Regions from separate parts of the Homo sapiens genome. Here region 1 is linked to region 2. A link means that fine-mapping ties the variant in region 2 to the expression of a gene that starts in the linked region. Tissue or cell type: monocytes after interferon gamma. Region 2 holds a variant in brackets; the other region holds the start of a gene. All regions are shown on one strand. Distances are between the middles of the regions. Region 1 holds the start of P2RY2 (purinergic receptor P2Y2). Region 2 overlaps P2RY2 (purinergic receptor P2Y2).

Evidence for each region. PIP is the estimated chance that this variant, and not a neighbour inherited with it, causes the effect. A credible set is the group of variants that fine-mapping cannot tell apart.
Region 1: it holds the start of P2RY2, and the variant in region 2 is the best candidate, but not a certain one, in a credible set for the expression of P2RY2 in monocytes after interferon gamma (Fairfax 2014, PIP 0.64).

The regions. Positions count from the first base shown.
Region 1 is chr11:73,217,128-73,219,627 of GRCh38, reverse strand. It overlaps P2RY2 (purinergic receptor P2Y2), which reads right to left and starts at 1,347. Exons shown (of 3, transcript NM_002564.4): 1 at 1,196-1,347. LOC124902709 (a long non-coding RNA gene) reads left to right here and starts at 1,435. Exons shown (of 3, transcript XR_007062773.1): 1 at 1,435-1,601. RefSeq lists enhancers at 76-794, 795-1,513 and a silencer at 1,227-1,436.
Region 2 is chr11:73,241,249-73,244,260 of GRCh38, reverse strand. P2RY2 (purinergic receptor P2Y2) reads right to left here. Exons shown (of 3, transcript NM_002564.4): 3 at 1,834-3,012. Among named protein-coding and RNA genes, the nearest start is that of P2RY2, 24 kb to the right of the region's middle. RefSeq lists enhancers at 1,159-1,398, 1,044-1,790. The variant A/G (reference allele first, on the strand shown) is at 1,466.

The sequences.
Region 1 (2,500 bases), 24 kb after region 2:
CTGTGGAAGGCTTGTGCCCTAGGGAGGGGCACAGTTGGGATTCTGGTTCTGGGAGGCTCCTTCCAGGGACTGACTTCCCATCCCCAAGCTGTGAGCCTGCCCATGGGGGGACACTGGTGCTGAACATGACACACTCATCAGCTCCTCAACAGCCCTCAAATTCCTTATCATTAGTCCCTTCTTACAGACGAGGCCACTGAGGCTCAGAGAAAGGACGGCTTGCCCAGGCCACACAGTGGCCAAGACAGGATTGGAACATAGATCTCTGAGTCTCCAGAGCTCTCTTGTGGACCTGTCTGCTCAGAGAATCTTCTTCCTTCCACTTCCACCCACAGGTAATAAACTTGCCTGGGTCTCCACCCAGATCCTCAAAACTCATAATTATTTCAGCTTAGATCCAAAACAAACCAGGCAGATCAGGCTGTGGTCCTGGGAAGCTGGGGATGCCATGCTGAGAGGAACAGCAGCCATGGACCCCACAAATCCCGAGCTGGCAATTCTGGTCTCCAGCAGTCCCCAACCCTTGGGCTGCGCTCCTGGAGGACCCCAAGAGGGCCACTGGCAGCCTTCGGGTTGGGGGGTGGGGTATCGCCTTTCTCCTGACTGACCCTTTCTACCGCACCATTTGCCAGATTAAAAGCCCGGGGACAGAGGCTTAACTGTCCTTTCTGGCCACTCCCTCCTCCCCCGCCCACTCCCTGCAACTGCCCCCTCAACATTACCAATGGTAGGTGGCCACCCAGAGTGACCCTGGGGTTAGGACAGTGGTAGGGGGTCTCCAGGGGTTCGCGTCTCTGGGCACCGGCCACCGCCTCACGCCACGGGGACGCTCACATCGGAGCACACACAGACAAGTTCCGCAGGCTTGGCCAGTCGCCCCGAGGGGCGCACACACTCACCCGCTAACACGCAGACCTCCCCAGTACGCTGACGCGCACAGCCTCACTACTGGGGCGCCCGTCCACACTCACCGAGACCGACGCTCCCGTGGAGACAAAGTTCAACCACGGACCCACAGGCGCGTTCAAGCCGTCCAGTTATGCGCTACACGCCGGCTCGCAACTGTGCCCCGGGGCGACAGCCGCTCCACAGCGCCCTCCCCTGCCCCGCGCCCAGTCCGCACCTGCGCCAGTCTGGCCCGCCGCTTCCCCGGGCCTCTCCCAGCGCCTTGTTCCCTCCAGACGCCCCACCCCACCTCTCGCCACTGCGCTGCGCTTCTCCTCTCAGGGTGCCGTCGCCGCCGCTCCCGGGTGCCAGTGCCCGGGTCCCGCCGCAGCCGCAGAGACCCACGTGCCTGGGAGCCCGGCTACCCACCTCCCTGCGCTGTTCCCCAACCCCGAAGCCGGGCCAGGCAGGGGGCGGGGCGGACTTTTGACTGACCCTGGCACCGCCCTCAACCCGCCCGGGTAGACACCGCGCCACCCGCTCCGGGACGCCGCCCAGCGACAAGGCCGCGGGGTCAGCGTGTCTGTACCGGTGCTGCAACGGGAGGGTCGGGCGGCGACGCTCTCACTGCCGGGCCAGAAGGAGGCCTCCCGGCTCCCTCACGCTAGAAGGGAGCTGGTTACCAGAGGTTTTCAGAGACGCCAAAGTTTTGCCAGGTCAGCCCGGTGCCTGCGTGGCCCACTGCGGGACCTTTGCGCCCAGCCACCGCGCCACCCTACCCCTGTCCCGCCCCTGCCCCAGCCCGGCTGGCCAGGAAGGGACCTACTGGGAGATACCTGCTCGGAACCCCAGGCTAAGGACGTACCTCCCTTGCTTGAAAGTGGGGGAAGGGGGTGCCTCTCTCCATTACCGTGGTTAGGAAAGCAGGGTACTCAGGATCCCGCCTCTCCCGTGCTCCCCACTTTCCCTGCCTTAATCTTATCAGCAGCTCCCTGAACTCCCCACTCTGGCCCCTTATCTTGAGCTGCTTTACCTCTCTTCTCTGTCGTCAACCCCACTCTAATGGCCTTCCCTGGTCGGGCTACCGGCTGCATGTCTGACCCGTTCGGAGACTGTGAGCTCCCGAGGGCAGGAACCAGGTCTGCCTTCTTCCTGCTGCTGTCCTAGAGGTCCTGGGAGGTGCTCAATCCTTGAAGGTGTGAATGGATGAATGAATGAGCACCCCGCCTCTCTCTCATTTCTGGTCTAGGAATCAGGAGTGTAGGTTCCTGTCTGGCTTCAGCACTGACTCTGGGAGACCTTGACCCAGTTCCATTCCCTGGCAGGGTCTTCTTTCCTGTGAAATGGAGCCAATCGCTCCGCTGGCTGGACAAGTGCAGAGGAGGCCTCTTCCTGTAGCCAAGGAACTTGCCCCGGGCCTTCGGGGCCTTGGGCCCTCTTGGGCTCCATATCAGCTGACTGGGCCTGGCTGCCAGGAAGGGTGCTGGCTGCAGCCCCACCAGGAGCAGTAGCAGAGTGGACACACAGCCCATAGTGGCTGAGCCGCCTCTGCAGTCCTGCTGGGGCCTTTGCTTGGGAGACACAAAGGCCCCTTGTCTAGCCTCCTGCGCCTATT
Region 2 (3,012 bases):
TTCCTGCCTCAAAGGGCCATTGTGAAACTTGTAAAATAATTAATTTATTTCCTTTGCAAAGGAAAGGAATGTGCCGGGCACTGATGGGCACGGAGGATAAAGCAGTGACCAAAACAGATCCCTGCCTTTTGGGAACTTTCATTCTAGCAAGGAGAAACAGCATAAATAAACTATGATGTGAGTATGGTTACCATCCCCCCCCACTTTTTTTTTTTTAATTTGAGATGGAGTCTCGCTCTGTTGCCCAGGCTGCAGTACAGTGGCACAATCTCGGCTCACTGCAACCTCCGCCTCCTGCCTCCCGGGTTCAAGGAATTCTCCTGCCTCAGCCTCCCAGGTAGCTGGGATTACAGGCACGTGCCACCATTCCCAGCTAATTTTTGTATTTTAGTAGAGATGGGGTTTCACCATGTTGGCCAGGCTGGTCTCAAACTCCTGAGCTCAAGTGATCCACCCGCCTCGATCTCCCAAAGTGCTGGGATTACAGGTGTGAGCTGCCATGCCCGGCCAGTTACCCCCTTTGTTTATGATGAGAAAACAGGTACCCAAGGTCGCCTGATTGATGAGTGGCAGAGCTGGGATTCAAACGCAAGTCCCTCTGACTCCAGGATTTGTGTGCTTTCTGTGCTGTGAATGAGGGCATCTGGGTTTATGTGGAGTAAAAGCTTGTGGGTGAGAGGTGTGCAGAGATCTGAGAGGACGGCTTAGGAGGCTGGCTGAGGCTTCCCATCTTACCTCTGCTTCTGGATCCACACAAGGACCCCGAACTCAGGCCTCCCTTTCCACATGACTTCCACAGGAGTCAGACACATCTTACCTACGGACATGCTGGTGGGATCCAAATTACAGGCATCTCAGGTGTGGTGGATGAACCCCAACTTCTTCCCAGATGGAGTTCCTGGGAGAACCGGCTGTGCTAGTCACACTTCTCCGGGGCATGGAGTGCAGTTTTGAAGGCTGTCCTGTGAGAAGACAAGGACTTCTAGGGGCGTGCGGAGGGCAGGGGTCTCTGGTGAGGATGGGGTTACCGGAGTGGGGTAGAAGAGAGAGTTAGGGGTGCCCATTCTTTGGAAAGAGCATGGTTACACCCTTCCATGTCCTTCCACGGCTGCCCTAGGCAGATGTGCTGTGTCCCTGAGTCTGAGCTGGGGAGGCGCAGGACCCTGTGAAGAGTGGTCTTCCACAGGAAAAGGGATTGCTCAGCAGGGAATGATCTCTACCCCTGGCTGGGGTGCAGGAGACGGACATCATGGTTTGGGCCAGGCACCGTCACCTTGTTGGCAAGTCAGGGCATGTTGGCAAGTCACTGTATGCAAATTGTGTTCTCTGTTTCAATTGTCAGCTCTCCCCCCGGACCCTCACACTCAACAGCCTGGCTGCAGCCGGATCATTTTCTTATCACCCCATAGGCGAAGGTCTGGATCCCAGCCCCCGTTTCCTGCCACTGCTGCCAGCTTTGGCCACC[A/G]GGGGGAAGCAGAGCAGCACCAACCAACCTGGGGCCCTTCGTAGACTAAACAGCCAGGGCAGAGCACAGAGTGGACTGTCCCTGTCCGCCTCCCTTTGCTCCCAAGGATTCTGGGGACAGGGAGCAAAAGGGGAGGGTGATGGGGAGTGGGGAGGGAAAGGGAGTTAGAGTGGGAGGGAGGGAAGGAGAGGGGGTGCCACAGAGCTGGCAGCTGGACCCTCTCTCCATTCCCATCTCTTCCTGCCATTCCACTTCCACTTCCGGGGTTTAGTCTGACTCCTGGCAGCCCCTTGTTGCCCCCCTCTGGCCTGGCTGCCCACCTGCAGCCCTTCTGTCTCTGAGTGTCCACTTGGTACCTGCCAGGACTGCCCCTCGCCCCTCACCATCCTCCCTGGAACATGTGATCATTCAACACACACATAAACACACGTGCACACACACAGAGACAGCACACACTGTGTGGACTAAGGTGGCAGGCTTTTAATTTCCTCCCCCACGTTTTACAATTGCTTTGGTCACAAAGGCAGGTCTAACAGTTTAATTCCACGCCAGAGAGGAGGGGACTTTTCATGTGGCTGCTGATTTGGAATTTGGTTCCAGGACATAAATCTGAGGACACATGGGGTAAAATAGCCCGCTTTCTAAAGAAACCTGGAAACAACTGGGGTAAGACATCTTCTCAGGGTTCCTTGCCCCAGCTCTCTACACACCCCACCTCACTCTACACGCTGAACCCTGGGCACCATGGATTCAAAGACATCTTTGCCACTGTGAGATCTCAGCCAAGTGTGGGGTGTGGGGTGGGAGGGGGACAGGCTTCCACATCCCCAGCAGGGTGTGCAGGAAAATCACTCAGGGAGACCAGGGTATCAGTCAGAGTCCCAGCAGGAAAGACGTTGCACACTCTAATCAGGTCATTTTGGGATAGCTTAGCGGAGAGACTGTTTTTACAAAGGTGTGGACTGATGTTTGGAGAGTTCTGTGCAGGGGGCACTGATGGCCCAGGAAGCAAGGTCAGCAAGAGAGGGCTGTAGCATCACCAGGAAAGACACATTGGTCCCTTTCCTCCCCACCCTGCCCCAACACCTAGAGGAGAGAGGGACCCAGAAGAGGAGTGATGAAGGTCCTCACAGCATGGGGGAAGAGGACAGGTGAGCATTCAATTAAGCAGGCGATGGAAATCTTAAACCTGACTTTGTTACCCAAAAGTGACTCAAAAGTTTGGAGTTTGCCAAATGCGCAGTTTATGGATGGGAAAGGAAAATCACACGTCACTGAGCAGGGAGCATGGGTGGGAGGAAAATCAAACAGTTGCATGTTTGTGCCTCACTGCATTGTCTCTGTCTAGTAAACCGGGAAAAGAGGTATTGGTATTACCAGTTCAATTTTCCAGATGAAGAAACTGAATTTGCAGTCCCAGAATTGGTGATGGCTGAACTGTGCCAGAGCCCTGCTCCTGCATCAGCTGCCCTGTGGCCCCCACCCTCCCCTTTGCCCCAGAGCTGCTGCTCTGTCACCCTGAGTTCAGTCACAGTCAGCGTGGGCTG